Linked DNA regions of Homo sapiens: all the other regions are linked to region 1. Evidence: fine-mapped expression QTL. A gene starts in region 1. Each other region holds a variant in brackets. All regions are shown on one strand. Distances are between the middles of the regions. Region 1 holds the start of MPHOSPH6 (M-phase phosphoprotein 6). Region 2 has its middle 30 kb from the start of MPHOSPH6. Region 3 has its middle 12 kb from the start of HSD17B2.

What was found. PIP is the estimated chance that this variant, and not a neighbour inherited with it, causes the effect.
Region 2: its variant is fine-mapped to the expression of MPHOSPH6 in left ventricle (GTEx, PIP 0.94).
Region 3: its variant is fine-mapped to the expression of MPHOSPH6 in cerebellar hemisphere (GTEx, PIP 0.93).

The regions. Positions count from the first base shown.
Region 1 is chr16:82,168,855-82,171,620 of GRCh38, reverse strand. MPHOSPH6 (M-phase phosphoprotein 6) reads left to right here and starts at 1,397. Exons shown (of 5, transcript NM_005792.2): 1 at 1,397-1,496. The coding sequence starts at 1,446. RefSeq lists a silencer at 1,262-1,421, a cis regulatory region at 1,468 and an enhancer at 1,396-1,540.
Region 2 is chr16:82,198,921-82,201,686 of GRCh38, reverse strand. No RefSeq gene overlaps it. Among named protein-coding and RNA genes, the nearest start is that of MPHOSPH6, 30 kb to the right of the region's middle. The variant G/A (reference allele first, on the strand shown) is at 1,231.
Region 3 is chr16:82,022,181-82,024,946 of GRCh38, reverse strand. No RefSeq gene overlaps it. Among named protein-coding and RNA genes, the nearest start is that of HSD17B2, 12 kb to the left of the region's middle. The variant G/A (reference allele first, on the strand shown) is at 1,255.

The DNA of each region.
Region 1 (2,766 bases):
CCCCTGGGAAAACCTAAAGGGCTTTTAACATCCAAATCGGTGTTTGAATTTCAGCTCTAACATGGATTAGCTGTGTGAACACCAAGTGCGTTACCCACTCTGTGTCTCAGAATCCTTAACAACACGATGACAATACCTTCTTTCCGGTTCTTATGGGGATTAAGTGAACTAATTAGCCCTAAGGTGACCAGGTCAACAATCTGACGTAGAACTCATGGTATCAGCCGAGATGCTATTAGCTTGAGGGTGTTCCAAAGCGTCGGACCTGGGAATGGTTTTCGAAAACGTGTTTAGGTGGTACCCAGAGCATTAAACACCAGGGTAGGAACGCTACCCTATTTTCAGTGGTTTTTTAAATTCTTTTTTGTTTTGTTGTTTTGTTTTTGAGACAAAGCCTCACTCTGTAGCCCAGACTGGAGTCCAGTGGCGGGATGTCAGCTCACTGCAGCCTCGACGTCCCGGGTTCCAGTGATTCTCCAGCCTCAGCCTCCCAAGTAGTGGAGACCACAGATCCGTGCCACCACACCCAGCTATTTTTGTTGTATCTTTTGTACATTTTTTGTATATTTTGTATATATTTTTTGTATGTATATTTTGTATATTTTTTGTGTATATATATATATATATATATATATATTTTTTTTTTTTTTTTTTTTTTTTTTTTTTTTGTAGAGGTGGGGTCTCCCTATGTTGCCCCTCGCTATGGTCTTTTCAATTCTTTGGATCAAAACCAGGCTTTGTTCTCATTCATGTGTCTTTGGCACCCATCCCTGCCTCCATCCCTTGCCATTTCTTGAGATTCTTCTGTTTAGCAGAGATCACTCGGCCAGACACGCATCGGCAGCAGCCTGGGAATGAAGCCAGCCTGCCTGGGGCGGCCCCCGCCGCGCTCCCCCGGGACTCCGGGCTGCTGTGAGGAAAGCAGCAACTCGTGGGGTCCTGGTGAAGAGAAAACGACCTGGACCCTGCAAAGCGACCCAGAACAAAGGGAGCCCGCCACCCACGTTATGAAGACAAAACACGTGGGTAACACGGCCCAGGCGGGTGGCAGGCGTGGCGGAAACCTCTCTGAGGCTGGCGAGGACTACTGAGTGTGGAGGGGGTCCCTGAGGAAGGGAGTCCCCGAGGGAGGATGGGCCTCCGAGGGGGCCAGGCCGACGTCCCGGGAAGGCGACCCGCGGCTCGGGGAAGCCAAGTTCTGGGTCGTCCTCTGACTTCGGCTTTTTTGCGGTCTGCCGCGCTCATCCCCGCGCCCGCCACCCCGCGAGCTTACCCGAGCCTCTCAGTCAGCAGAGCGCCCGCTGAGTGGCCGCGCCCGCGCGCAAGACACAGGGGAGGGGCGGGGCGGGGCGGCGCGCACTACGCGAGGGACGCAGCTGCGCACGCGGCTCCGCGCATGTGCGGTGAGGCTCGCGGCCGGAGTGCGGCGCTGGGCGGAAGCTACCATGGCGGCCGAGCGAAAGACAAGGTTGTCCAAGAATCTACTGCGCATGAAGGTGCGGGGACGCTGAGAGCGCCACTCCGGGCGGTAGGGGCACCCGGTCCTTCCAACCTGGCCGGGGCCGAGGCGGCGGGCGGACAAGGGACACCAGAGAGGCCTCAGAGGGCTTCCAGCTCTCGTGCTCATTCATTCACTTAGCGCCTGCTCTGCACTGTTTACTGGGAACCAGCTTACGAATTAGGCCGACTCTCTCAGGAGGCCCGCGGGCGGATGGGAGCTTGAGTACACAGAAGCAGTCAGGGTACAGCTTACCCAGTGCAGTGAGGGTAGAAGCGCTGGGGACCTTGGGGACTCACCGAGCTTCTCGAGAAGTTGTTGCTTACTTATATATGCAATAAATATGATATATGGGAAGTGTAACTCCTTAGCTGGGTAATTTAGGTAAATTCACTTCTTTCTCTGAATATCTCTTTTCCTCATCTTTAAAAAGAAGAGCATTAGGCTACATGAGTTCAAGCTCCTTTTTAATTTTGATAATACTTCTTTTAGTAGAGTTCTTCAGAGAAACAGAATCAACAAGATGTATATGTGTATATATGTGTATGGAGAGAGGGGGTATTTTTAAAACTGGATCACACGACTGTGGAGATGCAAGTCTAAAATCTGCAGGGTGGGCCAGTAGGCTGGAGACCCAGAGAAGTACTCAGTCCAAGTCCAAAGACAGTCTGCTGGCAGAACTCCCTCTTCTTCCAGGGAGAAGAGGGTGAGTCTCGCAGGGTAGTCTCTAGGTTACTGGGAGGGTGGAAGGCACAGCGTCCTAAACTAGGAGAAACTGAGTTCAGAAGTCTGAGAGGCAAGAAAGAAAAAGAAAACCATGGAAATTTCCAAGAATTAGAGACAATTCAGTATGTCTGGAAGGCAAGTACTAAGAAATGGGGTTGCAGAGTAGGCAATGGTCACAACGTGCAGGGAATTTGAGGCCAGATTAAAGATATTTTCCTTTATTTTGTGAGCAATGGAAAGCTATTGAAACGGGGAACAGTATCAAGAAAATGGCAAATATTTATAGTACTAGACAATGATTGAAGTGGTTTGCGTATATTAACCTATGCAATTCACATAATGACACTTTGAGGTGACTACAGGCAGTAACTCTCTTCTTACAGCTAAGGCAACTGAAACAGAAATAAGTAATTTACCCAAAGTTACACAGCTAATAAGTAGTGTAGACAGGACGGGAATTCAGGCAGTCTGGCTCCAGAACCCTGGCTCTTTATTACTACTCTGTACTCTGTGATGCCTGTCACTAAGCACTACTTCTAGAG
Region 2 (2,766 bases), 30 kb before region 1:
TACCCCTTGCCCACCTGCTTTGTCCAAGCTCCAACAATACCTTGTTTGTATCCCTATTAAAAGTCTGTATTGTCTTGTGGCTTTTTTGTTTAGACATCTGACTCACTTGTGAACTCCAAGAGCCAGGCCATGCATCCATGTCTGAAGCTTTAGCACTAGTTTCTTATCTAGAGTGAGTGCTCAATAAATCTTCGTTGGAAAAATGAATAAAACAATGAGTGAATGGATGAACAGGAAAGAATGAACCAGCTGACCTCCTCACACATCAACAGCCTTCTCCTCACTTCCTCATGCTGTTCCCACCTTCCTCGAATGATGACACTGTGCTGACTTTGAAGAAAGGCAATCATGAAGAATGACGGAGTCTGGAAAACCAGGAATGGGGGTGGGGTTTCCAGGTGTGGGTGATGGGTAGAGGAGTGAGAGGACAGGAAGCAAAAGCAGAGGTGTGGAGTTTCCTTCAGAGACCACGGAAATCCCACTGGGAGAACAGAAGAGCTGGCATGGAAAATAGAAGTGGGGCAGGCAACAGGAGAGAACTGTGACAGCCTGAGTGGAGTAGGGCAGGACCCTGGAGCCCGTAGATGCACTTGGGTCAGGGTGATGGGGGTGACGGTACACAACTGAGGATAGAAGAATTCAATTCATCTTTTGTTTCCTCTCCTGTTGGTTTTTTACACATAGGATGAAAAAACCTACTTTGGGAAAAAAATAAGCAAGTGGACTCAAAGGTTTACAACAGCACTATTCACAACAGCCAAAAGGCAGAAACAGTACAAATGTCCATCAATGAATGAATGGATAAACAAAATATGGTCTATCTATACAATGGAATATTGTTCAGCCATAAAAAAGGATAAAATACCGATACATGCTATAACATAGATGAACCACAAAAACCTCATGCTGCGTGAAAGAAGCAAGTCACTAAGGGTTACATATTGCATAATTCCATTTAAATGAAAGCTCCAGAATATGTAAGTTCATGGACATAGAAAGCAGGCTAATGAGTTTCCAGGGGTTTGAGTGACAGGGAGTAGGAGTATGATGGAGCATAATGGGTACGAGCTTTCCTTTCTGGGTGACGAAATGTCTCGGAACTAGATAGAGATGGTGGTTATACAATATATGAATGCACTTAATGCCACTGAATTGTACACTTTAAAGTGGTTAATGGTTAATTTTATGTTATGTGAATTTTACTTCAATTAAGAAAAATAAGCTGGGCCA[G/A]GTGCAGTGGTTCACGCCTGCAGTCCCAGCACTTTCGGAGGCCAAGGTGATAGAATCACTTGATGCCAGGAGTTTGAGAACAGCCTGGCCAACATGGTGAAACCTCGTCTCTCCAAAAATATACAAAAATGAGCCAGGTGTGGTGGAGCACGCCTGTAATCCCAACTACTCCAGAGGCTGGGGCAGAAGAATCGCTTGAACCTGGAAGGCAGAAGTTGCAGTGAGCGGAGATTATGCCACTGTACTCCAGCCTGGACGACGGAGTGAGATTCTGTCTCAAAAAAAGAAAAAAAAAAAAGAAGAAGCTGGTAGAAAATACCTCCCCTTTGAATGAACCCATTGTTGGAGGCTTCCTCCATTTTATGGAGAGAGAAGCTGCAGTTAAAGCAGAACCAGGGCCTCTCCCAACTTACAGTCAAAATGTCACTGACAGTCCCTGCCTGGCTCTGTCGTAGGAAAGTTATCCCTTGTGACTCCTAGATCTTCCTTAGCTTTCTCCCTCCCTCCCACAGAATGTAAACTCTGGGAGGTCAGAAATTGGGTCTATCCTGCTCAGCTGCCATTTCCCAGCACCTAGCATGGTGCCTGATGTGGTGTATGACTACTGTGCCCTCTGATCCATTCTCCACACTGTAATAGGTGATCTCTTCAAAGAGAGAATTTTCTTGGGTCCCCTTCCTTCCATTTTCAACCCTAATGGCTTCACTGGCTCTAGAATGAAGACCAACGTTTTGCCCTGAGCCATAAGCTAAGCGTAATCTGGCTCATGCCCAGCTCACCTTGAATCTGCCCACCTCTATGACCCAGGCCCGTGACCTACTTTCAGCGAAGGTCACCACACTTCCTCCAGTGATGCAGCCTTTCCATGTGCTACCCCTCTGTCTCCCTTCACTTCAGCCTAATTAACTCTTACTCATCCTTCATTTCTGTGCCAAAGACTGTCCCCTCTGCCCACCAGCATCCATTCTTATCTTCCTTTTAAATAGAACTCCCACGCACCTAGCTATCACCACTAACAACATCTTCTGGCCTACTTTGTAGCTAGGTGTGGTCATGTGACTAAATTCTGGCCAAGAAACAATGATGTGTACAGCTGCCAAGTCACCTCTTGAAAGCCATTTCTTTCTCCCCTCCTTCTGGCTCAAAATGATATCCACAGAGGTAGGATTGGAAGCCAGATGTTGAAGATGGCAGAGCTGCCTACCAACCCTGAACTGCTCACCTCTGTCATATAAAAGAGAAAGAAATTTACATCTTATTGAAGCCATGACAATGTAGCATCTTTGTGACAGAGCTTAGCTTGTATCATAACTAATCTATACCTTACCTCAACCGAATCATATCAAAGCCTTTCCCTGTCCAGTGTAATCAGTCTGATCAGTCTGACTCTTCCTATTATGTGTTCTCAAGCCACCATAGACCTCTTATTTCTATCACTGTGTGTGTGGGGAGAGGAGGGGAGAAAGAGAGACAGAGACAGAGAAAATTTTTAACTCCTGCCCCTCTCCTCTAGATTATAAGTCCCCCAAAGGCAGA
Region 3 (2,766 bases), 150 kb after region 1:
ATCACCCCCATATGGGACTGTCTAGTTGCAGGAAAACAAGCTCAGGGCTCCCACTGACTCTACATTATGGTGAGTTGTATAATTATTTCATTATAGATTACAATGTAATAATAATAGAAATAAAGTGCACAATAAATGTAATGTACTTGAATCATCCCAAAACCATTCCCCCACCCCCACAAAGATCTGTGGAAAAATTGTCTTCCATGAAACCAGTCGCTGGCACCAAAAAAGGTTGTGGACTGCTGATTCAAGCCACCAAGGTCATGGTCATCTGTTATGGCAGCCCTAGGAAACTACCGCAATCACCAAAGGACATACAACAGTGATGTAACTCTACTTACTAAAGGATCCTTTGTCTCCTCTCACCACCACCAGGGAGTTTCCTAACCTCCTAGATACTTCCTTGAGCTTCTCTTAATTCTCTCACTGTCTCTTTAACCTCCTCCTCTTCCTCCCACCCATATTGTTCCACAGACTCAACTTCTCCCTGTTTCCTACAGGGTTGTCATCTCACTTGTCATCTCACAGCCTACTCTAACTCCTACTCCCAAAGTTACAAGTGCCAAATTTACTTTATTCACAGCCTTCTCTATCTCAGTGAGGACAACTTCATCCTTTCAGCAGCACAGCATGCAAGCACTGGACTCCCCTTGACTCTGCTGTTGGAATCAACCCACATCCAATCCACCAAGAAATCTTGCTAGCTCTACCTTCAGAATTTATCCACTACCTGACTACTTCTGACTCCCTCCACTGCTGCTAGCCTAGTCCAAGGCATCATCACCCCCTGCCAGCATTGCAACTGCCTCCAGTAGATCCCTCTGGTTCCACCCCTGTCTCCCAACAGTCCATTTTCAACCCAGCACCAGAAAAAAATTCTTTTCAAAACTTTAGTCCAATCTTATCACTCATCTACTGAAAACCTGGCAAAGCCTCCCGTCTCACCTAGAGAAAAGCCAAAATCCTTAAATGGCTACAAGGATGGTCTGGCCCCTGCAGTTCTTAGACCACATCTGACTTCTACCCCCTCTTTCACTCTATTCTAGTCCCAAGGACCTACTTACTTCTTATCAAACACATGGGACACCCTCCTTGATCCAGCAGTTTCCTCTGCCTAGAATGTTCTTGTCTAGTTGCCTAATTCCCTCGACTCCTGTGATTCCTTTCTTGTATGTCTCCGGCTCAATGCAACTGGCTCCCTCATCATGCTCTGAATTTTCCCATGGAAATGATCTAAATAATAAAACCATA[G/A]CAACAATAACAAACTTCATGCTGTATCTGTCTGCTGACAATGGACTGAATGTTTGTATCATCTCAACCCCCAACTTTATATGTTGAAATCCTAACCCCCAATGTGATGGTATTTGGACGTAGAGCCTTTAGGAGGTAATTAGGCTATGGCGGTAGAGCCCTCATGAACGGGATTAATGCCCTTACAACCTGGAGAGCTCTCTTGCCCTCTTTTGGCCCCGGGAGGATAAAGGAAGCCAGCAGCCTGCAGAGCCAGCAGTTCTGCAACCTCACCAGAACCCAATCATGCCGACACCCTGATCGCAGACTTCCCGCCTCAAGAACTGTGAAAAAAAAAATTATGCTGTTGATAAGCCACCTTATGTTGTTGATAAGCCTCCTGTTCCTGTTAAGCCACCTCTGGTACTTTGGAATAGCAGCCCAAACTGAACAAGACACTGTCTATCTATCAAAAACAAAATAAAACAAAATGGTGGTCATGAGTATACTGTTAACATGTTTACTTGAACTGAAATATGAAGTCAATTATTTTTTCTAACAGCTGATCATTAAATATAACGTGACCATAAAACTCAAAAATAATGTAAATACTTTGATTTAGCTGTTTGACTTGACAATGTGAAATGGCTTTGCCAATTATATGATGAATATATTCCAGAACTTGAATGAGTTGTCTTCAGTTACAAAGTTGTCCTAAAATATATTTAAGATACATAAGATAAAAGCATTTTATCAAAAATATTGCATTCACAATATGGTATTATATTGAAATTAACATTAACGCTGTTGTGATTTACCCAACTCTGAGTATACTTAGGGAAACATAATGTCTCGGAGAAAAAAAATAACAAGTATAATTAGTATTCATTTGATATGGGTTTAAACCCACTTTGGTCTAATTTCTGGACACTGAAGATGGAATAATAAATTATTTTGCAAGTAATTGTGTTTACAATTCTCAGCTTCCAGCAAAACTGAAGAAGAACCTAACCTAGTTGCCAGTTGACCATAAAATTTAATTAGGGGCATATAATTCAAAAGGAGGTTTAAAAATTGAGTGTCCCATCTATTCCTAACTCGCTGAGAATTTTATCACAACAGGATGTTGAATTTTGTCAAATGTTTATTCTTCATCTATGGATATGATCATATGGTTAAGCTTATTTAATATGTCAATATTGAGAAATATATTGATGGATTTTTTTAATTGAGTAAAGTTGCTATTCAAATCTAGTTCCATCCCCATCTACTCACTTCTGTGAATGAAAATTCTCAGTGATACGTGTATAAGAATTTTAAAAATAGCAATATAATTCATGCTGAAACCTGTATTTTTCTATTAGTAAGTAGCATTCAAATTAAGATACCTGAACAAATTGGAAAAAACCCACATCCATCGAATTAATACTTTATTTTTATATTTAATAATTTAAAAATTTTATAATAGTATTTTATTTGTTATCTATGACTAATAATTAAAATGTTAACTCAATCCAGAAGAGAATTGATACA